6 separate regions of the Homo sapiens genome follow, and regions 1, 2, 3, 4 and 5 are each reported to be linked to region 6. The links are microRNA targets in miRTarBase. Many come from high-throughput screens and were not tested one by one. Region 6 holds a microRNA gene; each other region holds the end of a gene's coding sequence.
The links. Region 6 holds the annotated microRNA hsa-miR-6776-5p (UCUGGGUGCAGUGGGGGUU, at 1,949-1,967, shown strand). A microRNA usually pairs through its seed, bases 2 to 8, with sites in the 3' UTR of a target mRNA and lowers its output. Matches are read on the target gene's strand: a 7mer-m8 pairs with bases 2 to 8, a 7mer-A1 pairs with bases 2 to 7 and ends in A, and an 8mer does both.

Region 1 (5,085 bases), not on the chromosome of region 6:
CCTGCTGGGGAACGGGACCATACTGGGGCTCATCTCACTGGACTCCAGACTGCACGCCCCCATGTACTTCTTCCTCTCACACCTGGCGGTCGTCGACATCGCCTACGCCTGCAACACGGTGCCCCGGATGCTGGTGAACCTCCTGCATCCAGCCAAGCCCATCTCCTTTGCGGGCCGCATGATGCAGACCTTTCTGTTTTCCACTTTTGCTGTCACAGAATGTCTCCTCCTGGTGGTGATGTCCTATGATCTGTACGTGGCCATCTGCCACCCCCTCCGATATTTGGCCATCATGACCTGGAGAGTCTGCATCACCCTCGCGGTGACTTCCTGGACCACTGGAGTCCTTTTATCCTTGATTCATCTTGTGTTACTTCTACCTTTACCCTTCTGTAGGCCCCAGAAAATTTATCACTTTTTTTGTGAAATCTTGGCTGTTCTCAAACTTGCCTGTGCAGATACCCACATCAATGAGAACATGGTCTTGGCCGGAGCAATTTCTGGGCTGGTGGGACCCTTGTCCACAATTGTAGTTTCATATATGTGCATCCTCTGTGCTATCCTTCAGATCCAATCAAGGGAAGTTCAGAGGAAAGCCTTCCGCACCTGCTTCTCCCACCTCTGTGTGATTGGACTCGTTTATGGCACAGCCATTATCATGTATGTTGGACCCAGATATGGGAACCCCAAGGAGCAGAAGAAATATCTCCTGCTGTTTCACAGCCTCTTTAATCCCATGCTCAATCCCCTTATCTGTAGTCTTAGGAACTCAGAAGTGAAGAATACTTTGAAGAGAGTGCTGGGAGTAGAAAGGGCTTTATGAAAAGGATTATGGCATTGTGACTGACAGTGACCTAGGAAGTTACATCATTGAGCGGTTCTTAACCCATCTCTGCACTGGTGGGACCTCTGCCCTCAATGGACATGAGAATTATCTGAGACATTTATTTAAAATGGAGCTATCTCCTGCCCTACCTTTAAATGACTGATTTCAGCAGATGTGGGATGAAATTCTAGAAATTGATCTCTTCAAGTTGTGCTGCAGCCACTCCACACCAGGACAATACCCCTTACAATATCCTCATTAGCTTTTGATCCAGTCCCATACCTCCCATAATGTTTTCCTCAAAACACTGGTCCCTTCAGAGGACTTTAAAAATAAGTTCTATAGTCAAATAAGTTTGAGACTTACTTCACATCAGATGCCTCTGTCTAGGGATCACAATTCATATTAGCATAGTGAATGCTGTAAATATTTCTCTAGGAAAGAATAATTCTATACCAGCTTTAAGCCAGTGTTTTCTAAACTTATGTGAGCACATAAAATTTCCTTTGTAATACTTAGTAACAGTTTCCTGGAACAGGAGATCTTGATATTAATTGACTCATTGTGAATACTTCCTACAGCCCCCTTCTAGGGCAGAATGATTTCTTTTTTCCTTGCAAAGTGAGCCTCTAAAGAGATGTAGTTCTGAGCATTATGCCTCGATCAGTCTGTAAAAATCCGGGTTCTGTTTGGATACAGACCGTGAGGGACCCTGTCTCTACTGTTCAATGGTAGATCATCTAAAGAAAATAAATGCAATCCTGTCCTTCATCATGGATCGGCATTCCTGCTATAGAAGCTTCAGGAGATGACCTCATTCAACCTCACAATCTTCTAAATTTGAGATTTTTAAGAAATATGATTCAGTATACATCTTCCTGTGTTTGCCGCTGAATGAAATCAATCTAATTTTTCTAATTCAGGGTTTTCAAGATAAACCCAGATTTCTCAAGAAAGAAAAATCTAGAAAGATTTCAAAATCCACCACCTACACACTTAAAAGTTGTAGCAGCTTCTTATGCCATGGGAAACATGTCATTTTGAGATGATGTTTTTTCTAGGTTTAAGTTTGGTCTTAAACATTTATATTTAATTTCTCATTGTCTTAGTTCAAAGAATTTACTTTTATATTTTAAAATAACTTTTTACACAATAACTCAGTGTCATATCATGTTAGATATAAAACTATGTCCTAAAACTATTTTATCCTTTTTTTTTTTTTTTTTTTTTGAGACAGTCTTGCTCTATAGCCCAGGCTGGAGTGCAGTGGTGCAATCTCGGCTCACCGCAACCTCTGCCTCCTGGGTTGAAACAATTCTCCTGCCTCAGCCTCCTAAGTAGCTGGGACTACAGGCATGTGCCACCACGCATAGCTAATTTTCAGTAGAGACAGGGTTTGTATTTTTAGTAGAGACAGGGTTTCACCGTGTTGGCCAGGCTGGTCTCAAACTCCTGACCTCAGTTGATTCACCTGCCTCGGCCTCCCAAAGTGCTAGGATTACAGGCATGAGCCATCCTGCCCAGCCTATTTTATACTGCTTATACTATTTATATAGTATAAAAATAGTTTTAAAACTATTTTATGGTATACTTTTTATAAAGTAAAAAGTATACTGTAGTATAATTTTTATACTATATACCATATTATATTTTTATAAAGTTGTTTCCATTTGCTACTAACTTTTTCTTTTGTATGTCAGTTTCCTGATTTCTACATTTCCTGCAGGTCACCTGGAACATCAAAAGAAAAAGAAAAGCTGTAATATTGATGGGTGGCCTACTGTGCAACAAGATTTTCATATAGTGTTTTTGGTGTTATATGGATGTTTCTTCTCGCAGTGGATGTGTAGAGTCAGAGCACAGATGGGCATACTCTCAAACCTTAATAACTGTGCCACATTGCCCTTTGAGTTTATTCTAAACCTTAGCAAGTCAGAGATCACACTGTATGGAACTAACTTCTATCTAAATTGCATGATTGATTGATAGGAGATTTCCAAATAACATTTGGACTGCCTTACATCCAGTAAAAGAACTCAGCAAAATACAAATAAATATGATAATATCTTAGACAGCAAATCTTCTCATCCCACAAGAGGCAGGAAACTGCTAGAGGAAGCTGCCTTGGAGAGGATTCTTTCCTCCCCTCCCGAAAGGAGCTGAACTCAAAATCTCTCCATTTCACAATAGACATTGGAGAACATTTTCAACAGTGGATTTGCACCGGTGTTTTGTGTCCTAGAAAAACGTTCCCTTCAGGTAGGTTCTAATAAGCCCCTTGAACAATTTCCCAAATTGATCATCCTGCCTTCAGAACTTCTGAATCTTCCCTTCAAAACACATACACACGCACACACACACACCCACACACATACCCCTAATCTTATTTAACACTGCTGGAAATAAAAATCTATGTTCTAATGAGAACAAACATCAGACAGAATATGATAAAAGCAAGACTATCCTAGAAACTGTGGCTTCTAAGTTAACCATAATACCTTCCCGGTGATGCACTATATAGTTTCACCATCCCCATGGCTTCATGGGCTCCCTTGGGGCTGAATGGGTCACTACATACCTTTCTAACAGGCTTCCCTGTTTCACACTAGACTAGGGGTCCCCAACCCCTGGGCCATGGACCCACACCTGTCTGTGGCCTGTTAGGAACCAGGCCACACAACAGGAGGTGAGTGGTGGGTCAGTAAGCATTACCACCTGAGCTCCGCCTCCTGTCAGATCAGCAGTGGCATTAGATTCTCATAGGAGGGTGAATCCTATTGTGAACTGCCCATGCAAGGAATATAAGTTGTATGCTCCTTACGAAAATCTAACGCCTGATGACCAATCACTGTCTCCCATCGCCCCCAGATAGGACCATCTAGTTGCAGGAAAACAAGCTCAGGGCTCCCACTGATTCTACAGTATAACGAGTTGTATAATTATTTCATTATCTATTACAGTGTAATAATAACTGAAATAAAGTGCACAATAAACGTCATGCGCTTGAATCATTCTGAAACCACCCCCCCTTCCCGCCCCCACCCTGGAAAAACTGTCTTCTATGAAACCGGTCCCTGGTGCCAAAAGGGTTGGGGACCACTGCGCTAGACCATCCTCGTCCATGTAGCATCTTGAAGGACCTCTCCAAAAGCAAATATCCCTATATTCACCTCAAGCCACCTGTATCTACCAACAGCCTACTTTCTTCAAGATCAAAGTCACACTCCTTAGTCATTTCAGACAAGGTCCTTTGTACACATGATGGCTTCATACACTCAGTGCTCCAGCAATGCAGAACTACTTGCAACTGCAGGAATCTAGTTCTTCCATCTGGAAACCTGCCTCCTTCTCTTTACCCTTCCTTGCCCTAGAGCTACTGCTGGCTTTAAAAAGGTGCTCAGGCCGGCACGGTGGCTCACGCCTGTAATCCCGGCACTGGGAGACCAAGGAGGGCGGATCATGAGGTCAGGAGATTGAGACCATCCTGGCTAACATGGTGAAACCTCGTCTCTACTAGAAATACAAAAAATTAGCTGGGTGTGGTGGTGGGTGCCTGTAGTCCCAGCTACTCAGGAGGCTGAGGCAGGAGAATGGCATGAACCTGGGAGGCGGAGCTTGCAATGAGCCGAGATCGCGCCACTGCACTCCAGCCTGGGCGACAGAGCGAGACTCCATTTCAAAAAAAAAAAAAAAAAAGGTGCTCTGGGTAGATCATTGAGAGAAAAAAAGGTGCCTTTGAAGGACGCGGCCTGGCAGTGTTCAAGGCTTGGCAAGCAGATGGCACTTTTGGCAAAAACAACAACAACAACAACCACAAAAAACGAATCCCCTTCCTCCTGCCAATGCAGCCCCTGTTAAGGCTTGGTGAGCTGAGCAAAGATTCCATTTCCACTCCCACTCACCTTGTTGGCAGGATGCCACTGTACAACCGACAGACTGCACAGGGCAGACCTGCTGTATGGCAACACGTATCCTATCCCATCATAAGTCTTCCAAACCCCGATCAGCAACCACCCCTACCAGGAAGCATTCTCTGATGCTCCTTGACATTCACACCTGGGTCTGTAATTTTTGCTTCCTTGAGCCTTGTACGTGGTTCTAGTGCAATAGTTATCCCATCTGATTATAGCTGTTATCTTCCTACCTGGGCAAAGATCCTTTGGTCAGGTACTTTGTTGGTTATCTCTAGTTCTTAAAAAGGTGCCTGAAATTTATTTGTCAGTTGCTGATCCAAAATTAAAAGCTAACATTCATGTTCT
Region 2 (5,000 bases), not on the chromosome of region 6:
GCGATCTCGGCTCACTGCAAGCTCTGCCTCCCGGGTTCACGCCATTCTCCTGCCTCAGCCTCCCGAGTAGCTGGGACTACAGGCGCCCGCCACCGCGCCCGGCTAAATTTTTGTATTTTTGGTAGAGACGGGGTTTCACCGTGTTAGCCAGGATGGTCTCGATCTCCTGACCTCATGATCTGCCCGCCTCGGCCTCCCAAAGTGCTGGGATGACAGGCGTGAGCCACCGCGCCCGGCTCTCCTGTGTTTTGTGTCCTGTTGCTCAGCCCCCAGCCCGTGCTCACCGGAAATGCCGCTGAGCCCCCGGCCCGTGCTCACCGGAAATGCCGCTGAGCCCCCGGCCCGTGCTCACCGGAAATGCCGCTGAGCCCCCGGCCCGTGCTCACCGGAAATGCTGCGGAGCCCCCGGCCCGTGCTCACTGGAAATGCTGAGCCCCCGGCCCGTGCTCACCGGAAATGCTGCTGAGCCCCCGGCCCGTGCTCACCGGAAATGCTGCTGAGCCCCCGGCCCGTGCTCACCGGAAATGCTGAGCCCCCGGCCCGTGCTCACCGGAAATGCTGCTGAGCCCCCGGCCCGTGCTCACCGGAAATGCTGCGGAGCACCCGGCCCGTGCTCACTGGAAATGCCGAGCCCCCGGCCCGTGCTCACTGAAATGCTGAGCCCCCGGCCCGTGCTCACCGGAATTGCTGCTGAGCCCTCGGCCCGTGCTCACCGGAAATGCTGAGCCCCCGGCCCGTGCTCACCGGAAATGCTGCTGAGCCCCCGGCCCGTGCTCACTGAAATGCTCTGGCGTATGACCTGTAAGGCTCACACCTGTAAGGGGCGTTTGTGGTAGCCTAACAGCACCTGTGGATGGAGTGGGCACCTTTCATTAATCTTTGTTACTCATTGCTGCGTAATGAATCACCCCAAATTTGGTAGCCTAGAACCACAACTGTCATTTATTCAGCTCCTGAGTCTGCACAGCAGGAGCTGCCGTCAGCGCAGGCATCGCAGCTGGTGCCCAGTCCAGAGGGTGAGCGTCCCGCAGGGGCCCTGCCTTGGAAGGAGCTCCAGTCCCGCAGGGGGATGCGGATTCTACCTCTCCATCTGCCTCTGCGGCGGGGAGTGGAACCATTATTGTGGCTTTTTTTGGGAAACAGGCGATTTGCCAGGATTCATTCCTGTATTGATTCATTGGTTCATTGATCACCTATCCTAAGCCCAGCTCAGTGCTGGGAAACTGGGAGACAGGAGTGGTCTCTGCCATCGTGGAACTTGTAAAAATTTAAAAATTCTGTTCCCGGCCAGACACGGTGGCTCATGCCTGTAATCTCAGCACTTTGGGAGGCTAAGGTGTGTGGATTACAAGGTCAGGAGTTCAAGACCAGCCTGACCAACATGGTGAAACCCCATCTCTACTAAAAATACAAAAATTAGCCAGGCACGGTGGCACGTGCCTGTGATCCCAGCTACTCAGGAGGCTGAGACAGGAGAATTATTTGAACCTGGGAGGCAGATGTTGCAGTGAGACGAGATTGAGCCACTGCACTCGAGCTTGGGTGACAGAGCGAGACTCCGTCTAAAAAAAAAAAGAAGGCCAGGCACGGTGGCTCACGCCTGTCATCCCACCACTTTGGGAGGCCGAGGCAGGCGGATCATGAGGTCAGGAGATCGTGACCATACTGGCTAACACGGTGAAACCCCGTCTCTACTAAAAATGCAAAAAATTAGCTGGGCGTGGTGGTGGGCACCTGTAGTCCCAGCTACTCGGGATGCTGAGGCAGGAGAATGGCGAATGGTGTGAACCCAGGAGGCGGAGCTTGCAGTAAGCCGAGATCACGCCACTGGACTCCAGCCTGGGTGATAGAGCGAGACTCTGTCTCAAAAAATTAAAATAAAATAAAATTCTGTTCCCGTGTGTGGTGTTAGAATAGAGAGTAGTTTTCTTCCTCAGTTCCCGGATCATAGCTCCTGAAGCCCTAGTTGCAGTCTTTTGCTGCACTGCTGAGCTCGTTAGGCCTCAGGAAATAATCTCCCGCCCTCCTCTGGGCTGCAGAGCTCTAATCTTACCTTTTCGATTACGGGTCTTGGGACCCTCCCCAAAGAGGGTCCTGCCCTATACCCCTGGGGAAGTAATGCTGACATCATGAAGCTTCCATAAAATCCCTAGGCCGCGTGTGGTGGCTCACGCCTGTAATCCCAGCACTTTGGGAGGCTGAGGTGGGTGGATCACCTGAGGTCAGGAGCTTGAGACCAGCCTGGCCAACGTGGTGAAACCCCGTCTCTACTAAAAATACAAAAGTTAGCCAGGTGTGGTGGTGGGCGCCTGTAATCCCAGGTACTCAGGAGGCTGAGCCAGAAGAATCGCTTGAACTCAGGAGGGGGAGGTTGCAGTGAGCCGAGATTGCGCCACTGCACTCCAGCCTGGGTGGCAGAGCAAGACTCCGTCTCAAAAATGAACAAACAAACAAAAAACCACGAAACCCTAGAGAACTGGGTTCTGGGGAGCTTCCAAGAGCTGAACATGTGGAGATGCCTGGAAGCTCTGAGATGGTGCCCTGTGCATCCTCATGGCACTCCAATCCCCACCCTACACGTACCTCACCTGTGGTCCCTTCTTCTGCTATCTTTGCCACATCCTTTATAGTAAACCAGGAAACACAAGTGTTTCCGAGTTCAGTGAGCTGCTCCAGCAAATTAATTGAACCCAAAGGGGTGCTGGGAACCCCAACTTGAACCCGGCCAGACCGAAGTCCTGGAAGCCCAGATTCGCAACTGGTGTCTGAAGAGGGAGAGGCTCGGGGACTGAGCCCTCGGCCTGTGGGATCTGACACTATCTCTGGGTAGAAGGCGTCAGAGCTGAATTAAGAGGACACCCGGCTGGCGTCTGCTGGTTGGTGTGTGGGAAAAAACGCTCCCACATGTGGTCACAGAAGTCTTTTCTGTGTGGATGACTGTGATGTGGCGGTGACAGCAGGGGAGAAACAAGGCTTGAGTGTTCTCTATGTCCGATTGGACCCCCTCCACCAGAACAGGCTGTGGGGACTCCCATTTAACAGGAGACACTGAGGCCAAGGGAGTGAAGTCACCTGCCAGCAACTGGAGCTGGAGTTCTGGATTCACTTTTTATTTTTTTATTTTTTTGAGACGGAGTCTCGCTCTGTCACCCAGGCTGGAGTGCAGTGGCGCGATCTCGGCTCACTGCAAGCTCCGCCTCCTCGGTGCACGCCATTCTCCTGCCTCAGCCTCCAGAGTAGCTGGGACTACAGGTGCCCGCCACCACGCCCGGCTCATTTTTTGTATTTTTAGTAGAGACAAGGTTTCACCATGTTAGCCAGGATGGTCTCCATCTCCTGACCTCGTTATCCACCTGCCTCTGCCTCCCAAAGTGCTGGGATGACAGGCGTGGGCCACTGCGTCTGGCCTGTTTTTTTTTTGTTGTTGTTGTTTTGTTTTTGAGACAGGGTCTCACTCTGTCGCACAGATTGGAGTGCAGTGGCTCAATCTCGGCTCACTGCCACTTCTGCCTCCTGGGTTCAAGTTATTCTCCTGCCTCAGCCTCCTGAGTAGCTGGGATTACAGGCGCCTGCCACCACAGCCCAGCTTTTTTTTTTTTTCGTATTTTTAGTAGAGACAGGGTTTCACCATGTTGGTCAGGCTGATCTTGAACTCCTGACCTCAAGTGATCCGCCGCCTTAGCCTCCCAAAGTGCTGGGGTTACAGGTGTGAGCCACCACGCCCGGCTGGATTCGCTCTTGCAGTCTGAGAAGTGATTCTGGTTGGTGGTGGTGGGCACTGGGGGATACCGGACGACCCTCCCCACCGGTGGCGAGTGGGCTGCGTTCTGGAGCAGGCCGGGCGCAGATCCCAGCTGAGCCCTTGCTGAGGGTGTAACCTCCGCTGCCTGGGCCTGGGAATCAATCACATGAGGCACTTCAGTTCCTGGGAAGTGTTAGGGCTGTTGTCTCACCAATGTCACTACCATCTGCCCAGCTGGCCTCTTCATTTGACATCTGGGGAGACTGAGGCTCAGGGAGGATACCTGGGCCGGGCGGGGCTGGAGGGCCCGGGCCCTGCGTTCCAGAAGAGCCGCCTGCTCTCCGGCTTCAGGCTCCGCAGGGCCCCGTGGGGCGTCCCCCTCCGCTGCTCCCACCAGGCCGGGTCCAGGGGTCCCGGCGTTTCCGGCCTCGAATCCAGCCTCCAGTCGCCGCGGTTCCGGGGCCGTGGGTGACCTGCTGGGGAAAAGCGTCTTCTGCGGGCACCGGGGCTGGGAGGCGGGCGCTCGCATACACACCAGCGTCAGCCTCGCAACACATTTTATTAGCGTGGGGCAGGGGCTCCCGCGGGGGTGGAGGGGCGGCCGCGGCGCTGTGTGGGGACCGGGCGTCCGCTTCCTGGGAGCCCCGGCCTCCTCCGCAGGGCTGGGCGCCTGGTTATGGCAGGGCCTCACCAGGGCGAAGGGAAGGCTCCGCGCGCCCCGCACGCGGGGACCCCCCAGCGCAGATCCCGGATCCGCGCGGCCCACGGGCCTCAGCCCACCGGCTTGACCTTCGCGATGAAGAGCGCGGCGGCCCTCTCCAGAAACTCCTCGCGGGTCATGGGCGCGCTGGGCCGCCGCCCCCCGACGGCGCGGTCCAGCGCCAGCGCCAGGCTGTCGGGCCCCAAGCGCGAGCCGGCCTCCAGGAAGCGCGCGGGCGCGGCGGCGTCGCTGGCCTGCAGCGCGCCCTCCAGGGTGTCCAGCACGGCCTGGCCCACGCGGCGGTCGGCCACGGCGGCGGCCGAGTCCTCCAGCAGCTGGAAGAGCGCGCCGGCGCGCGCCACGAACTCCAGCAGCACGAAGCAGGTGAGTGTGCCCGCGCGGAAGACGCTCAGCGGCACCGCCTCGTGGTCACGGCACTGCACCTTGCGCAGCAGCGGCGCCACCACCTCCTCGGGGGCTTGGCCGTCCCGGCAGATGCGCCTGAGCAGCTCGCTGTAGGTGCGCCCGTCCAGCCCCGGCCTCTTCCTGCGCCCGCCG
Region 3 (5,085 bases), not on the chromosome of region 6:
TACGGCTTCATGCTGCAGAACGAACCGCTGCCGCACAGCTGCAACTGGGTGGCAGCCAGTGGGCCGTGCGACAAGCGCTTCGCCACCTCGGAGGAGCTGCTCAGCCACCTACGGACCCACACGGCCCTGCCGGGAGCCGAGAAACTTCTGGCCGCCTACCCCGGGGCCTCGGGCCTGGGCAGCGCCGCCGCCGCCGCCGCCGCCGCCGCCTCCTGCCATCTGCACCTCCCCCCGCCCGCCGCCCCCGGCAGCCCCGGGTCGCTGTCCTTGCGGAATCCACACACTTTGGGCCTAAGCCGGTACCACCCCTATGGCAAGAGCCACTTATCCACAGCGGGGGGCCTGGCCGTGCCGTCCCTCCCCACAGCCGGACCCTACTATTCGCCATACGCGCTGTATGGACAGAGACTAGCTTCAGCCTCGGCGCTGGGATACCAGTAACTACAGCTCTTCCTCCACCCCAGCCCCCTCACCCTCCTCCCTCTCCCTCCTCCTCCCTCCCCACCTGCCGTCGCCGCTGCAACCTCCACTACTGCTTGACCCTGCCGGGATTCCCCACCCAGCCCTTCCCCACCGGACTGTGTATTTATTTACTATAATGTTAGCTTACAAGCTGGGAATATAAGTGCATTAACGGCCCACATGAGTCAATGGTATGCAAAAAGTCTGTGTTCTCCCAAATAATAATATTAATCCCACAAATAACGACATGATCCCCGCCCCTGTTCCTTTCTGTTATTTTTTCTTAGATATAAGTTTTACATTTTTTATTCCTTTTCCTCTTTTTTTGGTTTTGATTGGTTTGGTTTGAGGGAGAGTTGGGGTCTTTGGGTTCTTCTAGACGTTTTGTTTTCCCTTCCTGGGGAGTTTCTTGCATGAGTCTTAACTTAAAACTACGTTTCCGCCTTCTCTTTTTCCCTCTTCCCCCTTCATTCCCTCTTGTTTCCTTCCATTTGCGGTTCTGTTTTTGTTTTTTGTTTTGTTTTGTTTTGTTTTTTCCTTTGTTGTACAAGTAACAGAGAGGAGGTTTTTTTTGTAACTCATTTTGGGGGTGGAGGGGGCCACCTGGGTGGCAGGGGCCCTGGAGCTCTATTGACCTGGTACACTGCTCCGGGACTCCTCCCCCGCCACCCTCCGCGCATAGGGTCCTTGGTCTGGACCCTGCCCCCCAAAAGTAGGGCCTTGCTCCTCTACCTTGCTCTGAGCACGGAGAGCCCTGACCCCACCAGTAGGCTCGCCCCCAGAAGGGCCCAAGTGGCCGTCTACCGTCACCTTCCAGACTCCCGCCCCTAACACCCAGTGGCTACAGTGCGCCTGTCGGGGCACCTGGAGCGCTCACCTGGTTGAATTCAAAGTCCCAGAAGGCCCCGCTGGCGTGAAGCCGGCCCCTTACATTTTGCGAAGTGCATTATAGTCCTTGTTTTTCTCTCCCTCGTGGGGGCAACGACCCCTCCCCTGGCAGTAGGGGTGGGGTAGGTGACTCTCGCTAGATCCCTCCAAAGCAGACCGGTGGCGATGTCAGCGGATGTCACGAGCTCGTTAGCTGCGTTCGGGGAAGGTTGGGGCGTCAGGGAGCTCTCGGATCACAGCAGCCCCCGCCCTCTCCTAGGCCTGGCCCGGCAGAGCCCCCAGAGTGGACCCCCCAGCGACTGGGGTCTTCTCCCCACTCCTCCCTCCTTCTGGTCTGATGCGGCAGCGCGGGGGCTGCGGGGCCTGTTTGGGACGAACAGAGCTCTCCCTTGGTAAGACTTATTTTGTTAATAAATGGAATACTTGGCTATATTCACACCGTGGTGTTTTTCTCTCTTGCCTCGCCCACCCTCTTCCAGACACCTAAGCAGATGCCCTTCTTTTATTCTTGTTTAAAATGCCTTATGGTTTCCTTCTGTGATTTCCGTTCAAGGACGAGTTTAATGCCTTTCCTCAAGAAATGGGGGAGAAAAAACAAAACTTCTGCCAACGCATTACAAATAACATAAAACCACCTTTTAATTTTTTTCCCCAGTTGGTTATGTAGCTCCCAGCCTCACTTCAAAGGCCTTGACATTTCCTGGGGCCAGGGTGGAGGGTGTGTGTAAAAGTGGATTTTCCTCTGGGCCCAGATGCGACGTGCTAAGGGGGCTAAGAAGGGACCCCAGGACCCCAGCACCAAGGGCTCCGGCAGAGACTCCAGCAGCGCAGTCCTGGAGCCCGGCGGCCTGGCGGGCAGAGACGAAACGCCTTTGGCGCCACCTGGTGGCAGGAAGACGAGCGACAGGCCTCGGAGAGAAGGCGCAGCCCGCACTAGCCCCGACGGCACCTTGGTTCTTCTCATCTTCTGAACGCGAAGGATTCCTACCTGCTGTTTTTGTGGGGCGTTTCCTCTCTCCTGACCAGAGGGTAAAGGCACCTGCTGAGAGGGTTGCTTCTCAAGGCTTGGGGGCTCCCCTCAGCCATCGCTGGGTTGTCGACCTGGGTCATCTGCGCCCCGGAAACTTCGAAACAGGGTTTGGGTTTTGCTGAGAAGATGCGACGATGACTCAAGACCTTGAAGCCATTCTCAGTCCGGAGGAGCCGGGCCCCTGGGCCTGGCTCGTCCATTTTCTTGAGCTCGCACGACTGACACTGGCCTCTGCATCCTCGGGCAAGAGAGGGCGGGTGCTGTTTACTGACGTGTTGGCCAGGGAGCCTGCCCCCTGTACCATAGACAGGCCCTGCGCGAGTGTCCAAGGCGGGAGGAGAGAAGGGACAGCTCTGGGAGGCCCAGCCACGTCCAGCCCAATGCAGACTCGCTGCCCTACCCCCAGCAGCGAGAGCGGGCTGCGCCCGCCAAGGCACGGCGGCTCAGACTTCGGCTGCCCGACGCCAGGACCCCGCTCCATCGGGCCGGGGGCGCTTGCTCCCTGCGCAAGGGCCTGGGCGCGCGGGGCCAATGGGACGCTCTGCAAAACCGCCTCCTGCGCCGCTTCCTGGCCGCGCTCCTCGTGGGATCTGTCGTTGGGGTTGTGCTGTTTGCTTTTTCTGTAAGGAATGCGACTTGGGAGTTCGTGCTCTGAAAGGTGCATGCTTTTGAAACGTCTGTGGCCCGAGGTCAAGTGCAGTGCGTAGGATGGGGCCGGTTTCTCTGCGCTGTTTTTGGTTGTCCACAAACTCGACGACAGACAGGGCGTGTGTGTGTGTGTGTGTGTGTGTGTGTGTGTGTGTGTTTGTGTGTGTGTGTGTGTGTGTGTGTGTGTGTGTGTGTGTGTGTGTGTTTTACCAAATCTTTGGATCTAGCAAAAGGAAAGGGATCCTGGGGTGCTCCTACCACTGGGCACTGGGAAACCCGAATTAGAGAAAGTGCCCTGAGACCAGATCAGGGTCTTCCTGGGAAACCAGCATTATCCAATTTCTCGGGGTTCAATCTGGCCCGAATCTTTAAACGAACTAAATGTAGCGACTCGTGGCTTTATTGTTTCTTTTTCTGTTGTTTTGTTCGTTGTTTATTATTTCTTTGCCATCTTCCCTTCCTCTGAAGGCCCCTCTTTCCTTCAGAGACCCACCCCCTCACTATGTTTTTTAATGCCTGCTAAAAATGATGGAAATTGCTCCCTCTGTAGGGCGACTTAAACTTTGCTTTCTTACACTTCAAGTCTTCAGACCTCCCTATCTACAAACCAAAGGGCTCCTCTTGTTGGGAGGAAGGAAGGAAGGGACGCACAACCAGCAAATTCCCTATACCAAAAGAAACTGTTCTAAAAGGTGTTTGGCTTATACCTTAGGTGTAAGAATGCAGTTAGAGAACTCCTTAGACTACAGAGTTTCCCCCATAAAATGTATTGGTGGCCTTTGGTGACTGGGAAGTTCACTGTTGGGCCTGGTGGGAATAGGCTGCCCCCAACTACCATTGTGGCCGCAAAGGGCAGGTCACATAGTCTGGAGTGTCCAGTTCTACTCTGAAAAGATGGCTCTCCCCACCTAAGAAATGTGACAGTTTTAATAAGCTGATGAAAAGTTTGTTACTTTCAATAGCTTAATTCCCATTAAACAAAGTTGCCATCTTAATGGAGGTGGTGCTCCCCTATCCAGTGCTTATTTGAATAATTAATGCCTCCAGCAACCCTTTCTTTGAGGGTCACCTCCACCTTCCATTTCTCCACCTCCTCTTCCCAGCCCTCCTCCGCCTCTTTCTCCTAATCTGTCCCAGGCGCCAGAAATGGGGCCGGTGTTCCCAAAGCACCAGGAAGGGTGGAAGCCACAGGGCTGGAACTTGAGACACTGGACGTTCCTGGCTCCAGGTCCTATTTTCACACCTCTTGCCTGGTTATTTTTGTGGCCTTGTGGCAGCCATGGGAGGAAGGGAGGAGGAGAAAGAGGGGAAAGACTCACCCTTGGATATAGGCTGGACTCAAACAAAATCATGTGGTGTTAAGTTTTTAACTTCCCAACTGTACACCCGCAAACCCATCTCCTAAGAAATTCATAGCCCAAGCGGGAGGTGTGGGGCCCTTCCCCATCTTTCTGCAGCCATAATTGCTCTGCCCTACCTAGCATACTGTGATTGTATCTCTGGGTATATGAACTAACTCCCTCCTGATGTATGTCTGGGTTACGGTGGAATTCATCTTACAATAATCCTGTGGCTCTACACTTTATTAATCATTCTGTAGGGGAAGCTGCACTCCAGTTTTCTGTTTGATTTGATTTCATTCATCCTGTCTTTTTGCAAAATAGATGGTTGAGTGCATCCGATAATGTATGGTTTAATTTGGAGCACTATGGGTTTGAATTACCATTTTCATAATGTGCTGTGCATTAATGTGTTACATCATTTACAAAGAGGAATGTGCCGGGTTTCAAACTTTCTCCTGAAAGCCAAAGTCACCTAAAGGAAACAAAGCCAAATCACATCAACCCATCTTCTTACCTCCCTGCCAGAGAGCCTCCTGCCTCCCCAACCCCAGTTAAATCTGCCAAAGCTCATAAAACCCAACATGAAGCCTTTGTATTCACATAATGCAGGTGGGTGTCGAGGTTTGGGGGAAACTTTGCACATGGCTGCCCGGGAGCCGTCAATGGCAGTACAAAGCTCCCCCTCATTATTGCATAACAACAGCTTTGCAGCCA
Region 4 (5,085 bases), not on the chromosome of region 6:
CACACCTGGATAATTTTTGTATTTTTAGTAGAGACGGGGTTTCACCACGTTGGCCAGGCTGGTCTCGAACTCCTGACCTCAAGTGATCTGCCTGCCTCGACCTCCCAAAGTGCTGGGGTTACAGGCGTGACCCATCGCGCTCAGCCCATAGTATATGTTTTATTGTTCATTTTTCTTAAGTACTTCCTTTAGCCTCATCTAAGCAGTAATGTCCATGAAATCTGGGCCACAGTTTCCTGACTGACATTAAACAAATACAGAACTATTTAAATTAGAAATACTCATTCGTTTACAACAGAATCCTCTTATATTCCACACGGTTTTCAAGTATTCCTTTCTCTGCGTCATTAGGGTAATTAAAGAAACCCAAGATTTGTTTCAGCAGCTTTTGATTTCCACTGGTAACGGGATAAATCCTCCATAGCGGCTAACGTGGAAGACACCTCACACATCACATCAGCATGCATGCCTTGCCCATACCGCGTGACCTCCAAGGTACCGTGTCCAAATGACACGCAGAATACCCTGCTGCTTTCTTGGAATAACTTTGACCTGCACCCCCAACTTTGTCTTTCACACCTTGAATTGATTTGCTCCCTTCTAAGTTTGCTGCTATATGTCTCCGGCATTGCAAAAAACGTGACTTGCACAGCAAAGGGTCAGCTCTCATTTCTGTGTTTGCTTTCCCTTCCAAAGGTTTAGCTTCTTCTCCCGAGATAAGAAGCGCCTGGCCAACACACAGAGAAACGTGCACATCCAGGAGTCCTTTGGACAGTGGGCAAACACCCACCGCGATGACGGTTACACAGAGCAAGGACAGGAAGCCCTGCAGCATCTGTGACCTTGGCCCATCTCCACCCTCCAACCTGGACTGCCCGCCACCAGCGCCTGCAACCGAACTGCAGCCCAGGGGTCATTGCTGCCTCAAGCCTCTCGGTGCAGATGCACCCTGAAAACTGACCCCTCAAACAGACTGTCTGATTTGAGGATGGACATTGAAAAACTGACGCCAAACTCTAAAGAAATGTTTATTTATACCCAGGGCTATCACTGTTTCTAATAGATGACTCTGATCCCGTAGGATATATATTTAATAATCCCACAAACGGAGGCCAGACTTCTGCGTTAACTTCAGTAACACAAGCTTCTTTAAGCCAAATACATCACTTGCCACTATCATTGCTGTTTGACTTGCTTTGTATAAAATGCTATGTGTAGAGGTTTTATTATCACAGGTGACATAGTTCAGCAGGAGGCATGGAAGGGCTAGATCTTCATTAGTTACATTCATGAAATTGTGATGGTAACGTATTATACAGAATGTATCCATCAGGCAGACAAGGGGTCTGAAGTCACAGGCTCAGTAGCCCAACTCAGACACAAAGCCACAGACAATATGGATGATGGTCCTCTTACCCAGAAACTGGAGACAACTTTGCAGGCACCCTGGCTGCGTTCCTGATAATGCCTAGAGCATGTAGCAATGTTCAAGGCAGGTGCCTTGGAATCTGCTGTGAGTTATGCAGTACTAACCAAACAAAGTTGCTAAGGATGAGATGTTGCAACATTTCTTGTGTGCACTTTTTTTTCCTGACATCTTTTTTTCCTTTTAGGATTCATTAAGTCATATACTTAGTCCCCTGCAAAGAAGAAGACAGATGTCCCAGAGCAGACTGAAAGCGGGGCGTGGGATCCTAGGCAATGCAGGAGGGCAGGTGGGGGAGCTGTAGCAGAACAAGGGTGCTAGGTGGGAAGCTGGCTTGGGGACCACACGTCTGGCTGACTCACAGGGCTATAGCAGCAGACAGAGAGCCAGATGCTCTACTGCAACTGGTGAGTTGGAGGCTTGCCCACATAACACTGTCTTTCTCTCCACCCGCCAAGCATCCAGGGCACAGGGCTGGTTGCTCACAGATTGAGCGAGGTAGCACCTCCTACCAGCACTCAAGTTTATCAGGGCCGCGTTCTAAACATTCTACTGAAGTTTGCTAAGAAACCATTAGGTGAGGCTGGGCACAGTGGCTCACGCCTGCTATCCCAGCACTTTGGGAGGCCGAGGCAGGTGGGTCACTTGAGGTCCGGAGTTCGAGACCAGCTTGGCCAACACGGTGAAACCCCATCTCTACAAAAATACAAAAAAATTAGCCAGGCGAGGTGGTGCATGCCTATAATCCCAGCTGCTCAGGAGGCCGAGACAGGAGAATTCCTTGAACCTAGGAGGCAGAGGTTGCAGTGAGCCTAGATCGTGCCATTGCACTCCAGCCTGGGCGACAGAGTGAGACTTCATCTAAAAAAAAAAAAAAAAAGAAAGAAAGAAACCATCAGGTGAATTTGCAGAATCTAGAATGGACTCTGCTTCCAGATTGCCGAAAAAAAGAAATGATCAGACAGGGTAATTATTGCTGCGTTAGAGCAGTGTTTCTCAAACCTGAGTGCCCATTAGAATTATTAGAATTTATTCTCAAAGAGTATAGAAGCAGGTATACTGATGAATTTCTCTCCCACCCCTGGCCACCTTTGTTGCCCTTCCAACAGGTAACCAAAATTGCCAGTTTCTTGGTTATCTTTCCTAAACACTAAATGTCTCTCTTTTTTTTGAGATAGTCTTGCTCTATTGCCCAAGCCAAAGTATAGTGGCACCATCTCTGCTCACTGCAACTTCCGCCTCTTGAGTTCAAGCAATTCTCATGCCTGAGCCTCCCAAGTAGCTGGGACTACATGTGTGTGCCACCATACCTGACTAATTTTTGTATTTTTAGTAAAGACGGGGTTTCACCATGTTGGCCAGGCTGGTCTCGAGGTCTCGAACTCCTGACCTCAAGTGATTCACCTGCCTTGGCCTCTCAAAGTGCTGGGATTACAGGTGTGAGCCACTGTGGCTGGCCTTTTTTTTTTTTTTTTTTTTGGACACAGGGTCTCACTCTGTCACCTAGGCTGGAGTACAGTGGCACTATCATAGCTCATTGCAGCTATGAACCCCTGGGCTCAAGCAATCCTCCCACCTCAGCCTCCCAAGTAGCTGGTACTACTGATGTGCACCACCATGCCCAGCTAATTATTTTTTGTAGAGACCAGGTCTTACTTTGTTGCCTAAGCTGGTCTCAAACTCCTGGGCTCAAGTGATCCTCACACCCCAGCCTCCCAAAGTGCTGGGAATTCAGGTGTGAGCCACCGTGCCTGGCCAAATGTCACTTTTTTGATAAGTCAGCAGATCCAGCTCTTGAGCACATCAGAGGCTAGATAATCGGGACAGAAAGGAAAAATCAATCCATCAGAAAGTTTATACATGCAATTATGTAAAATAAAATCAAGAACAAAAAGCATATATATATGTACATGTGTGTATATATTCCTTCTTTCCTTTTTTCTTAAGGGACAAGGTCTTACTATGTCACCAAGGCTGGTCCCAAACTCCTGGCCTCAAGCAATCCTCCTGCCTCAGCCTCCCGAGTAGATGGGACTATAGACATGAACCACCATACCTGGCCCTCCTTTTTTTTTTTATTTAAATGGCAGCATAATATATTCATGCTGTTCTGTGCTTTTCTTTTTTCCCCTTGAAATATCCTAGAGAGGGCCAAGGTGCAGTGGGTCACACCTATAATCCCCATATTTTGGGAGGTCAAGTAGGGAGGATCACTTGAGCCCAGGAGTTTAAGACAAACCTAGGTGACATAGCAATAACCCACCTCTACAAAAAATTAATTAAAATAAAAAAATAGGTGGGTGTGGTGGTGTACACCTATGATCTCAGCTACTTGGGAGGCTAAGGCAGGAGGATCCCTTGAGCCCAGTTCAAGGCTGCAGTGAGCTGTGATCACACCACTGCACTCCAGCCTGGGGGACAGAGTGAGACCCTGCCTCAAAAAAGAAAAAAAAATGTATAGCAATAACTCCATATGAGTACATAAGACAGCGGCTCTCATGGCCAGGAGCAGTGGTTCATACCTGTAATCCCAGCACTTTGGGAGGCTGAGGCAGGCAGATCATGAGGTCAGGAGTTTGAGACCAGCCTGGCCAACATAGAGAAATCCCATCTCTACTAAAAATACAAAAATTAGCTGGGCATGGGGGCATGCGCCTGTTGTCCCAGCTACTCAGGAGGCTGAGGCAGGAGAATCGCTTGAACCCGGGAGGCAGAGTTTGCAGTGAGCGGAGATCGCACCACTGCACTCCAGCCTGGGCGACAGAGCGAGACTCTGTCTCAAAAAAAAAAAGAAAAGACAGTGGCTCTCAACCACGGATGACTGAGCCCCCCAGGGGACATTTGGCAGTCTGGAGACATTTTTGATTGTCACAACTGGAGGGGGAGAGAGGATACTGTCATCTATGGGTAGACACCAAGGAAGGTGCTAATGAACATCCTACAATGCCCTGGTCTACCATATGGGGGTGATATTTATTAATGTTTATCTAGGCCCCACTGATGGACAGGTAGCTTCCTTCCAATCCTTTACTCTCAAAAAGTGTTGCACACTGTCACACACACAAAAGTCTACAGAATAAACTAGAAGCAGAATTGCTAGATCAAAGAGTATTTGCTTCTGTCATGTTCATGGAGACTGCCAAAGTCCCTACCATGGAGGCTGTACCATTGTTTTTCTTTCAAAGTCACCACAGCCCATAGAACACTAAGCCCAAATGTACAGGGTTGGAGTCTGAGTGTGCAAGTTTTTTGTTTTTTGTTTTGAGACAGGGTCTTACTCTGTCACCCAGGTTGGAGTGCAGTGGCACAATCTCAGCTCACTGCAACCTCTGCTTCCCGGGCTCGAGCAATTCTCCAGCCTCAGCCTCCCAAGTAGGTGGGACTACAGGCAAGCAAAACCAACACCCGGCTAATTTTTGTGTTTTTCGTAAAGAGAAGTTTTCACCACGTTGCCCAGACTGGTCTCGAACTGCTGAGCTCCAAGCCATCCACCTGTCATGGCCTCCCAAAGTGCTGAGATTACAGCCGTGAGCCATCACGCCCAGCCTCAGTGTGCATGTTTTCTTTTTTTCTTTTCTTTTTTTTTTTTTTTTTGAGACAGAGTCTCGCTCTGTCGCCCAGGCTGGAGTGCAGTGGTCCGGTCTTGGCTCACTGCAACC
Region 5 (5,085 bases), not on the chromosome of region 6:
CACCACACCTGGCTGTCTTTGTTGAATTTCTTTTCTTTTTTTTTTTTTTTTTTTTGAGACGGAGTCTCGCTCTGTCCCCAGGCTGGAGTGCAGTGGCGCTATCTCGGCTCACTACAAGCTCCGCCTCCTGGGTTCACACCATTCTTCTGCCTCAGTCTCCCGAGTAGCTGGGACTACAGGCGCCCACCACCACGCCCGGCTCATTTTTTGTATTTTTAGTAGAGACGGGGTTTCACCGTGTTGGCCAGGATGGTCTCGATCTGCTGACCTCGTGATCCGCCCGCCTTGGCCTCCCAAAGTGCTGGGATTACAGGCGTGAGCCACCGCGCCCGGCCCTTGTTGAATTTCAATGATTTTCCAGGTGAGGAAACAAAAGCTCAGAGAGGCTAAGTAATTTGCCCCATGTCTCAGCCAAGAGACAGCAGAGTCAGGATTTGAACCCAGGCAGCCTGGCTGCAGCATCCATGCCTGTCAAGGTGGGGTGGAAGTGGACAGGTGATTATCCTCGCCACTCTGGCCCCAAACTCCGCCACCCTGACCGTCTCCATGCCTCCGGCCCCAGGTGTTCTCCCGGCCCGGCTGCTCAGCCATACGCCTCCGAAATCATCTGTGCTTTGGTCATTGCTCCTCTCTCTACATCCCTGGCTCGGACCCCACCCCACTAGTCCTGTGCAACAGCTGTATGCCTGCTCGCAAGCGTTGGGCACCCGTGGTCCTGTGGTGTCTCACTGGCAGCTCAGCCTCCCGTCGACGGGTGAAGATATCCACCATGCTGATCGAGGGGTGTCACTGCAGCCCAAAAGCATGAACTGAGCATCGTGGATGGGTGCACGGAGACACGCACCTTGGAGAAATGAGGGGAGATGGACCAAGAAAGACGTGGACCTGGATGATGTACTCTGGGTCAAGAGACCAGGGATGCAGGGTTAGGCAGACAGGTCCCCAGAGTCCTCACCCTGCTCCCCAGACAGTAGACACAGTGCCCGTCCTGGAGTTGCACCACTGATAGTCACAGCACACAATGATTGACAACTCACTTTTTTTTTTTTTTTTTGAGATGGAGTCTCGCTCTGTCGCCCAGGCTGGAGTGCAGTGGCGCAATCTCAGCTCACTGCAAGCTCCACCTCCCGGGTTTATGCCATTCTCCTGTCTCAGCCTCCCGAGTAGCTGGGACTACAGGCACCCGCCAACACGCCCGGCTAATTTTTTGTATTTTTAGTAAAGACAGGGTTTCACCGTGTTAGCCAGGATGGTCTCTATCTCCTGACCTCGTGATCTGCCTGCCTTGGCCTTATTATTTTTTTTTTTTAAGGACAGAGTCTCTCTCTGTCACCCAGGCTGGAGTGCAATGGCGCGATCTTGGCTCACTGTAACTTCCACTTGCCAGGCTCAAGCAGTTCTCCTGCCTCAGCCTCCTGAGTAGCTGGGACTACAGGCACCCGCCACCATGCCCAGCTAATTTTTGTATTTTTAGTAGAGACAGAGTTTCACCATATTAGCCTGGCTGGTCTCAAACTCCTGGCCTCAGGTGATCTGCCCACCTCGGCCTCCCAAAGTGCTGGGATCAAATCCACTGTTAATCATTAGGCTGAACTGTCTCTTATAGAATGAGGTCAAAGACACTCCCAGTTGCAGGGAGGGTAGATGGCCCCACCCAGACCGAGAGACACAGTGATGACCTCAGCCTAGGGACACCAAAAAAGAAAAAAAAAAAAACCCAAACCAAAAACGCAAACCAAAGCAGGCAGGCAGACAGCTGCTGGGGGAAATCCTGGGGTCCTTGAGACAGAGGCAGGACCCTCGTGTTCCCAGCTGCCTCTTGCCTTGATAGTGGTGCTGTGTCCCTCTCAGACCCCCCACCTGAGTCTCCACAGAGCCCCACGCCTGGCATGGCATTCCACAGAAACCATAAAGGTTGGCTGAGTCCAGCTGTCTATATGTGCATCTGTTTGTTCCTCCAACTGGGGTTCCCTGGGAGTGGGTGGCCCCATGACAGGGTGTGGGCATCTGAGTGCTCCCTCCCCAGCTGGGGCTCAGGGTCTTCAGCGGGCGAGGGCGGCCTGGCTTTGGGCGGCTGGAACCAGGGCCCTGGCAGATGGGCCTGTCTGGCACAGACGCAGGGACATGTGGCGTTGTCAGTGTTGCCTCCAAATGCCCCCCGGAGCGTGGGGCGGGGAGCCGGCCAGGCCCTTCTCAGCCCTCTTCCTGCCTCAGGAAGGAAGGCCTCAGGTGAGGGGAGCAGGAGGGGACCCGAGGAAACAGATGGGCCAGTGGGGCGTGGGAGCCTGAGACCCCTGACCTCACAGGCCTCACAGAGAGATGGGAACGGGACAGGCAGGCAGCTCCCAAGGCCCCTTGCTCGAAGGGCCCTGGAGGGGAGGGTCATGAAGGGCTCTGGGGGGGCTGCCCCATCCCTGTTCCCTCCAGAGTTCTGTGCCAAACCCCAGGCAGTGTCCGAGTGGGCAGCTCAGCCCTGGCACCATGGGCAAGCCCCCCTCTGGTGGGCATGAGGCATTTGCCTTCCCTCCCTCTGCTGTGCCCACCTCCTGCCAGCCAGGGGAGCCAGCTGGGAACCTTGGTGCCAGGGGAGCCCCCAGAGTCCCTGTCCCCTCCCGGGCAGTGCCAGCCGGCCCCTGCCCCGCCCCCCCAGGCCCAGTAATGGGTGGGTAATGAGTGCTGGGGGAGCGGGGGAGGGGCAGGGGATGCAGGTGCCACAGGCGCTGGCACGGGGGCCGCTAATCAGGTTTGCCAACGCCATCTGTCACCGCACGAGCATCTGGGGCTCAAGGTGACCCTGTCACCCTCAGTTACAATTATGAGTTTGGCATCTGTATTAAAGCCCGCCAGCCGGCCAGGCGGGGGACGGCTGGGGTGGGCACGGGGTTGCACGGTGAACCCCATCCCTGGGGTACCCTTCCCAGGGGCTGCGTGGCTGCCAGGCGTGGAGCTTCTTAGGGGACTATGTCTGTGTGTGTATGTGTGTGTGTGTGCACACCCATCCCAGTCTCCACAATTCTTAAAGTGTGTCCGGGTGCAGGGCTGGAAATCATAGGTTTGTGTGTGTCTCCATGGTGGCTGTGTGTCTAGGAGTTTGGTGGGCTGGCTGGGGGCGGAGCTCTGAGATTTTGTGGGTGCACAGATGTTCGTGCATCTGCATGCTGGGACAAGAACGTATGGAGGAGGGTGTCTCTTTGGATGATGGTGTGTCTTTTTCTTTTATTAGTAGTATTAATTATTATTCTTATTTGAGTCAGGGTCTCGCCCTGTCACCCAGGCTGGAGTGATCATGGCCCGATCCCTGCAGCCTCAAACTCCTGGGCTCAAGTGATCCTCCCTCCTCAGCCTCCCGAGTAGCTGGGGCTACAGGCTCATGACACCACGCCCAGCTAATTTTGTTTATTTTTTTGTAGAGACAGGGTCTCACTGTGTTGCCCAGGCTGGTCTCGAACTCCTGGGCTCAAGCCATCCTTCTGGTTTGGCCTTCCAAAGTGCTGGGATTATAGGCGTGAGCCACCACACCCAACCTGATGGGGTGTGTGTGTGTGTGTGTGTGTGTGTGTAAATGCACAGGGGTAGGTTGGGAGGGGTATCAGCTTTGGGAGAGGCCATGTGCAGTACTGCTGAGCTCCTCAGCTATCCCTTTGTTTCTATCTTCGCCAACTCCTGCTACGTGGCTGTGATCTGGAGGGCTCTGAGGACGGCTTAAGAATCTGGATTTTGGCTGGGTGAGGAGTCTCACGCCTGTAATCCCAGCACTTTGGGAGGCCAAGGCAGGTGGATTCATTGAGCTCACAAGTTCGCAACCAGCCTGGCCAAAATGGCAGAACTATGTCTCCACAAAAATATATTAAAAATTAGCTGGGCGCCGGGCGTGGTGACTCATGCCTGTAATCTCAGTACTTTGGGAGGCTGAGGCGGGTGGATGACCTGAGATCAGGTGTTCAAGACCAGCCTGGCCAACATGGCGAAACCCCGTCTCTACTAAAAATATAAAAATTAGCCAGGCGTGGTGGCGCGTGCCTGTAATCCCAGCTACTTGGGAGGCTGAGACAGGAGAATCGCTTGAACCCAGGAGGCGGAGGTTGCAGTGAGCCAAGATGGCGACACTGCACTCCAGGCTGGGCGACAAAGCAAGACTCCATCTCAAAAAAAAAAAAAAAAAAAATTAGCTGGGCATGGTGGTGTGTACCTGGAACCCCAGCTACTCAGGAGGCTGAGGTGGGAGAATGGCTTGAGCCTGGGAGGCAGAGGTTGCAGTGAGCCAAGGTTGTGCCACTGCTTTCCAGCCTGGGTGATAGAGCCAGACCTTGTCTCAAAAAAAAAAAAAAAAAAGAAAGAAAGCTCTCAATTTTGTAAGGTAGCCTTTGGATTCTAAATTCTTGGAGCTAGATTCTGGGTCTGGTGGATTCTAGTTTTGAGCAATAGGATCTAGATTTTTGGAATCTGAATCCCGGAGTATGGTTTCAGTGGCACCATCATAGTTCACTGCAACCTCAGACATGTGCCACTACACCCAGCTAATTTTTAAGTTTTTTGTAGAGATAAAGTCTTGCTATGTTGCCTATCGTGTCCCAAACTCCTGGCATCAAGTGATCCTCACGCCTTGGCCTCCCAAAATGCTGAGATTATAGCTGTGAGCCACCACGCCTGGCTGAGTTCGTGGATCTGGAGTATAGATCTTGGTATGATTGGAATCTTTTTTTTTTTTTTTTGAGATGGAGTCTCACTCTGTTGCCCAGGCTGGAGGGCAGTGGCGCAATCTCAGCTCACTGCAAGCTCCGCCTCCCAGGTTCAAGCGATTCTCCTGCCTCAGCCTCCTGAGTAGCTGGGATTACAGGTGCCCACTACCACACCCAGCTAATTTTTATATTTTTAGTAGAGACGGGGTTTCGCCATGTTGGTCAGGCTGGTCTCGAACCCCTGACCTCAAGTGATCTGCCTGCCTTGGCCTCCCAAAGTGCTGGGATTACAGGCATGAGCCACCGTGCCCAGCCCGGTATGATTGGACTCTAGATGCTGATCCTGGGTCCTGGGATCTGGATTACCGGCTCTTAGTTCTGTATCTGCGTTCCTGCTTCTGGACTT
Region 6 (5,085 bases):
CGAGTGGTGCGTGCGGGGCAGGGGCGGTGGGGTGGGTGGGATTGGGCAGATGAGGCGGCCACCACCTGCTCCCAGATGGCGTCTAAGGCCTGTGGTCATAGGCCAGGGAGTCAGAGAGAAGAGGGAGCAGCTGTGGAGATCACTGGGTGCTGGAGGGTGAGGGCAGCCGGGAGGCTCCCGGGGGCCGGGTGGGGCAGTGTTGGGGGCCCGGGCTGGACAGCGTTGGGGAGCTGGGTGGGGCGGTGTTGGGGGGGCCCGGCGGTGCTTGGGCTGCTCAGGCCCCCTGCTCCCTCCTCAGTGAGACCGTGGACCAGGCTGTGGAGACCTACGGCCTGCAGAAGATAACGCTCCTGCGGGAGATCTCGCTGAAAACAGGGATCCAGGTGGGCATGGCTCACAGCATCCCCGCTGTGTCCCCGCTGTGTCCCCGCTGCGTCCCTGCTGCAGGCTCCCACTCCTGGCCAGGGCCACAGGGGAAGTGGCTTTTTCACGGTAGCCGTCTGTGCGCAAGCGTTGGTGGGTTGGGAGGTGCCAACCCGCTGAACCTGGGCCTGAGGCTTCCTGTGGTGGGGGGGCTGCCCCCCAGGTCCTGCTGAAGGAGTACAGCTTCGACAGTCGCCACAAGCCCGCGTTCACCGAGGAGGACGTGCTCAACATCTTCCCCGTGGTCAAGCACGTCAACCCCAAGGCCTCGGATGCCTTCCATTTCTTCCAGAGCGGGCAGGCCAAAGTGCAGCAGGGTGTGTGGCCAGGTGGGGCTGGGTGGAGGTGGGGGTTCCCCATGGCCCGTCCTGACCTTGCCACCCCTGGGGGTGCCCTGCAGGCTTCCTGAAGGAGGGCTGTGAGCTCATCAATGAGGCCCTGAACCTGTTTAACAACGTCTACGGAGCCATGCACGTGGAGACCTGCGCCTGCCTGCGCCTCCTCGCCCGCCTCCACTACATCATGGGCGACTACGCAGAGGTACCCTCTGGGCTGTGGCAGCAAAGGCCTGGCCTCGTGTTGGGGGATGGGGAGTGAGGGGGCCCCTGACGGAGGAGTGGGTGGAGTCCAGGGAGACCCCAGGAAGTCGCTGGTTCTGCCCAGGCCACCCCTGGCTCCACCCCTCTGTAACTGTGTCCCGAGCGGGAGAGCTCAGGAGCACCCTGTGCTGCGGTGAGGTCAGTTCTGGGAGGCGATGGCAGGGGACCCCCCCACAGGGCGTCAGCAAGGACGCCTCCTGAGACTCCGTGAGTGGGCAGGAAGCATGCCACCGAGCTCCCACGTCCTCTGTGCCCAGTGCAGGCTGTGGGGTTCTGGGTGCCCTGCCTGGCCGGGGCTGGTGGAGGCTGTGGTGGGGTTCTGGGTGCCCTGCCTGGCCAGGGCTGTTTCAGGGTTAGCATGTCTTAGGATCCCTACTCCCTGCAAAGGGACTGTTTTTTCTTCTGTTTATAAATGGGTGGGTTGTTTGTTTGTTTGTTTGTTTCTGAGACAGGGTCTTGCTTTGTCACCCAGGCTGGAGTGTAGTGGCGTGATATCGACTCCCTGCAGCCTCAACCTCCTGGGCTCAAGCGATTCTCCCACCTCAGCCTCCCGAGTAGCTGGGATTACAGGCGTGAGCCAGCACACCCAGCTAATTTTTGTATTTTTAGTAGAGATGGGGTTTCATCATGTTGGCCAGGATGGTCTCAAACTCCTGACCTCAAGGGACCCACCCCTGCTCAGGCTTTTTTTTTTTTTTTGTAACATTTTTAGTAGTTTTAGGTTTGTATTTGGGTGTTTGTGGAGATTTTGTTGGGTGTAAGACATGGGTGTGTGGAGCTCTCTGTGGAGCGTGACCTGCCCTTCAAGGTGTGGCAGCAGCTGCTGCTGATCCCCCTCCCCCCTGCTGCACTGTGCTGGGCGCAGCCGGAGGGGACAGGAGCCTGCAGAGCGGCACCGTGGGCTGCTGGGCCGGGGCCAGGCGGGCTCTGGGTGCAGTGGGGGTTCCCACGCCGCGGCAACCACCACTGTCTCTCCCCAGGCCCTGAGTAACCAGCAGAAGGCGGTGCTGATGAGCGAGCGGGTGATGGGCACCGAGCACCCCAACACCATCCAGGAATACGTGAGTCGCGAGTGCCGCCCGCGCCGGGGGATGCGAGGGGCTGGGTCCGCGGCCACCCTGACCTGTCTCCGCCCCGCCCGCAGATGCACCTGGCCCTGTACTGCTTCGCCAGCAGCCAGCTGTCCACCGCCCTGAGCCTGCTGTACCGCGCCCGCTACCTCATGCTGCTGGTGTTCGGGGAAGACCACCCCGAGATGGCGCTGCTGGACGTGAGTGCTGGGGCGGGGGGGCGGCAGGGACCCAGCTCCATCCCAGGGGACCGGGAGCTGACCAGGGCCCCCCACCGCCTGCCCCCAGAACAACATCGGGCTGGTGCTGCACGGGGTGATGGAGTACGACCTGTCGCTGCGCTTCCTGGAGAACGCGCTGGCCGTCAGCACCAAGTACCACGGGCCCAAGGCCCTCAAGGTGGCCCTCAGGTGAGGGGCCGCCCGTCCAAACGCCAAGGCCGGCGGAGGCCTGCGGGGCAGCCGGCGGGGGCGGGGAAGAGACCCAGTGCTCCTGTCTTCCTCCACCCGAGAAAATTTCTCTCGACCTCCCCCTCTTCCCTGAGCCCTGGACTTGCTGTTCCCCTCGGTGGCTTCCAGGGAGGGATCTACGGGAGACCCCGGGCCCCCGAGTCAGGCCCCCACACCCAGCCCACTTATGCCCTTCCCTCGCCCCGCGCCGCGCCTCCCGGCAGCCACCACCTTGTCGCCCGAGTCTACGAGAGCAAAGCTGAGTTCCGGTCGGCCCTGCAGCACGAGAAGGAGGGTTACACCATCTACAAGACGCAGGTGCGCGGCGGGGGCGTGGCGGGGGCGGGGGCGGGGCGGGGGCGTGGCGGGGCGGGGGCGGGGCCGCGGGGGCACGGGGGGGCCTGATCCCTTCCCGCCTCCCCGCAGCTGGGCGAGGACCATGAGAAGACCAAGGAAAGCTCCGAGTACCTCAAGTGCCTGACCCAGCAGGCCGTGGCCCTGCAGCGCACCATGAACGAGATCTACCGCAACGGCTCCAGCGCCAACATCCCGCCCCTCAAGGTGAGTCCGGGGCGGAGCGGCCCCTCCGGCCCGGCGAGCGCGGGAGCCCCGCTCACCGCTGGTTTCCCCGCCCCGCAGTTCACGGCCCCCAGCATGGCCAGCGTCTTGGAGCAGCTGAACGTCATTAACGGCATCCTCTTCATTCCTCTCAGGTGAGGCCTCCGCCCCACTCGAGTGTCTCCCGGTTGGGGGTTTTTTGTGAGTCGGAGTCTCGCCCTGTCACCCGGGCTGGAGTGCGGCGGCGCCATCCCGGCTCACTGCAGCCTCCGCCTCCCGGGTTCAGCGATTCTCCTGCCTCAGCCTCCCCAGTAGCTGGGATTACAGGTGTCCGCCACCTCGCCCGGCTCATTTTTGTGTTTGTAGTAGAGATGGGGTTTCACCACGTTGACCAGGCTGGTCTCGAACTCTTAACCTTGCGATCCGCCCGCCTCGGCCTCTCAGAGTGCTGGGATTCCAGGCGTGAGCCATCGCGCCCGGCCCGCCCCGCTTATCTTCCCCAGCATCCTCGCATTCCGCGAGTGAAGACCTTGGTGTTTCTGCTTCACACAAAGTATCTTGGCGTTTTCCCACCAGTCCCTAAGAAGCGGCTTCATTCCCTCCCCACGCTTCCCATCCTGCGGCGGGGGGGGGCTGAGGAGCAGGCCCCGGGCTCCCCGGGGTGGCCACAAGCAGTGTGGCCTCCTGTGGGGAGTGGATTTGGTCAGCAAGGCGTGGCAGCAGCCCCCCAACTCCGCTTTCCTCCCCCTGCGCTGGAGGGAGGCCACCGAGGGCAGCGAGGGGAGCCCCGAGGCCGGGTCAGGTGCGGGGTCCTTACCTTCTCCGTGTTCAGGGACCTTCCGCCTTCAGGAGGGAAGCGCTTGTTCACACACATTCCCCACTGAATAGAGCGCAGAGCCTGAGCTTATCCCACAGGAAAGCCGGGAGGCGGGTGGAGCCCCCAGGACTCCTCTGAGAGCCACCTCCATCCCCACCCTTATCCTCAGCCAAAAAGACCTGGAGAATCTGAAAGCCGAGGTGGCGCGGCGGCACCAGCTCCAGGAGGCCAGCAGAAACAGGGATAGAGCCGAGGAGCCCATGGCTACCGAGCCCGCGCCAGCGGGGGCCCCAGGAGACCTGGGCTCCCAGCCCCCGGCTGCCAAGGACCCTTCTCCGAGCGTGCAGGGATAGAGAGGGAGCCAGACGGACAGCCAGCCAGCGGCCCCGTCACCAGGGAGCCCGACTGCGGGAGAAGGGGGCGAGCCTGCGGGCGGAAGAGGAAGCAAGGCCCTCTTCCTCCACGTCTCACCCCACCCCACCCCCGTGTCCTCCTGGGAGCCTGGCCTGCCTGCCCCGCAGAAGGTGTTTTTGCGCTGGTTCAATGAATAGATGATGCAGAGGCCCCATTGGAGACACGTGAATGGCGTGTGCGGCCATCAGTTCCCGGCTGGGGGGCAGGTGTTGCTTCGGCCCCCGCCGTCCGGCCGGCGTGTGCGAGTGCGCCCCTGGCTGTGAGTGTTGACCGTTCCTCTCCCCTGTACATAGCCCGAGCCAGTCCTGAGTGGGTGACTCCTGAGTGGGTGACGCGCAGACGGGATTTCTCAGGTCATTTGTATGGTCGACATGATGGCTGCTGCTTTGGCTGCCACCACCCCCGGGCCCAGCCTGTCTGAAAGTTCAGGGTTTAGGCCGAAAAACCCGGTGGGGAGGGGTGGGGAGCCGGAGCTCTGTGGCGGGGCTGGAGGGCTGGGGTGCACTTTAGTTTGGGGCGGGACGGGAGCCGCCGTTGTGACTGGCGTGGTCTGGCTGCTGCTCCCGAACGGAGGGGTCGGGGTTGGCTTGCTGGGCCCTCAGAGCCCAGTGGGTGGCTCTGACTCGGCTCCCTACTCCCTGCACCCAGCTGGGCGCAGCCTTGGGGCCTGCGGTCTGAATGTATCCCTCCCCTCAGTTTTAACCTGAGCTGCCGAACGCACAGTGGGCCGGGGGCGAGGCTGGGGGAAGCGGGGC

Region 1: miRTarBase lists OR2A4 as a target of hsa-miR-6776-5p. The part of its 3' UTR that is shown has no 7-base or 8-base seed match.
Region 2: the mRNA of TPGS1 is a reported target of hsa-miR-6776-5p. The part of its 3' UTR that is shown has no 7-base or 8-base seed match.
Region 3: miRTarBase lists ZNF703 as a target of hsa-miR-6776-5p. Seed matches in the 3' UTR shown: 7mer-m8 at 557-563 and 7mer-m8 at 1,294-1,300.
Region 4: miRTarBase lists RILPL1 as a target of hsa-miR-6776-5p. Seed matches in the 3' UTR shown: 7mer-A1 at 1,415-1,421.
Region 5: miRTarBase lists DAND5 as a target of hsa-miR-6776-5p. Seed matches in the 3' UTR shown: 7mer-m8 at 1,331-1,337 and 8mer at 1,652-1,659.

The regions. Positions count from the first base shown.
Region 1 is chr6:131,696,207-131,701,291 of GRCh38, reverse strand. OR2A4 (olfactory receptor family 2 subfamily A member 4) reads left to right here. Exons shown (of 1, transcript NM_030908.2): 1 at 1-1,648. The coding sequence ends at 823. The region is part of intron 15 of ENPP3 (ectonucleotide pyrophosphatase/phosphodiesterase 3); the gene reads right to left. Among named protein-coding and RNA genes, the nearest start is that of OR2A4, 2.7 kb to the left of the region's middle. RefSeq lists enhancers at 1-205, 206-791.
Region 2 is chr19:518,937-523,936 of GRCh38, reverse strand. TPGS1 (tubulin polyglutamylase complex subunit 1) reads right to left here. Exons shown (of 2, transcript NM_033513.3): 2 at 4,283-5,000. The coding sequence ends at 4,514. Among named protein-coding and RNA genes, the nearest start is that of CDC34, 10 kb to the left of the region's middle. RefSeq lists an enhancer at 4,573-5,000.
Region 3 is chr8:37,698,234-37,703,318 of GRCh38, forward strand. ZNF703 (zinc finger protein 703) reads left to right here. Exons shown (of 2, transcript NM_025069.3): 2 at 1-1,786. The coding sequence ends at 441. Among named protein-coding and RNA genes, the nearest start is that of ZNF703, 5.0 kb to the left of the region's middle. RefSeq lists an enhancer at 914-1,425.
Region 4 is chr12:123,468,294-123,473,378 of GRCh38, reverse strand. RILPL1 (Rab interacting lysosomal protein like 1) reads left to right here. Exons shown (of 7, transcript NM_178314.5): 7 at 697-3,325. The coding sequence ends at 841. It also overlaps a transcript of SNRNP35 not described here. Among named protein-coding and RNA genes, the nearest start is that of SNRNP35, 13 kb to the right of the region's middle. RefSeq lists a silencer at 4,283-4,577.
Region 5 is chr19:12,972,827-12,977,911 of GRCh38, forward strand. It overlaps DAND5 (DAN domain BMP antagonist family member 5), which reads left to right. Exons shown (of 2, transcript NM_152654.3): 2 at 563-1,934. The coding sequence ends at 808. Among named protein-coding and RNA genes, the nearest start is that of DAND5, 5.8 kb to the left of the region's middle. RefSeq lists an enhancer at 1,606-2,112.
Region 6 is chr17:2,689,778-2,694,862 of GRCh38, reverse strand. MIR6776 (microRNA 6776) reads left to right here and starts at 1,944; the gene lies at 1,944-2,002. CLUH (CLUH binding protein of NUMT mRNA) reads left to right here. Exons shown (of 26, transcript NM_001366661.1): 16 at 1-6; 17 at 299-383; 18 at 587-740; 19 at 824-963; 20 at 2,003-2,083; 21 at 2,167-2,292; 22 at 2,381-2,502; 23 at 2,766-2,859; 24 at 2,968-3,102; 25 at 3,181-3,254; 26 at 4,086-5,085. The coding sequence ends at 4,269. RefSeq lists enhancers at 2,637-3,144, 3,145-3,653.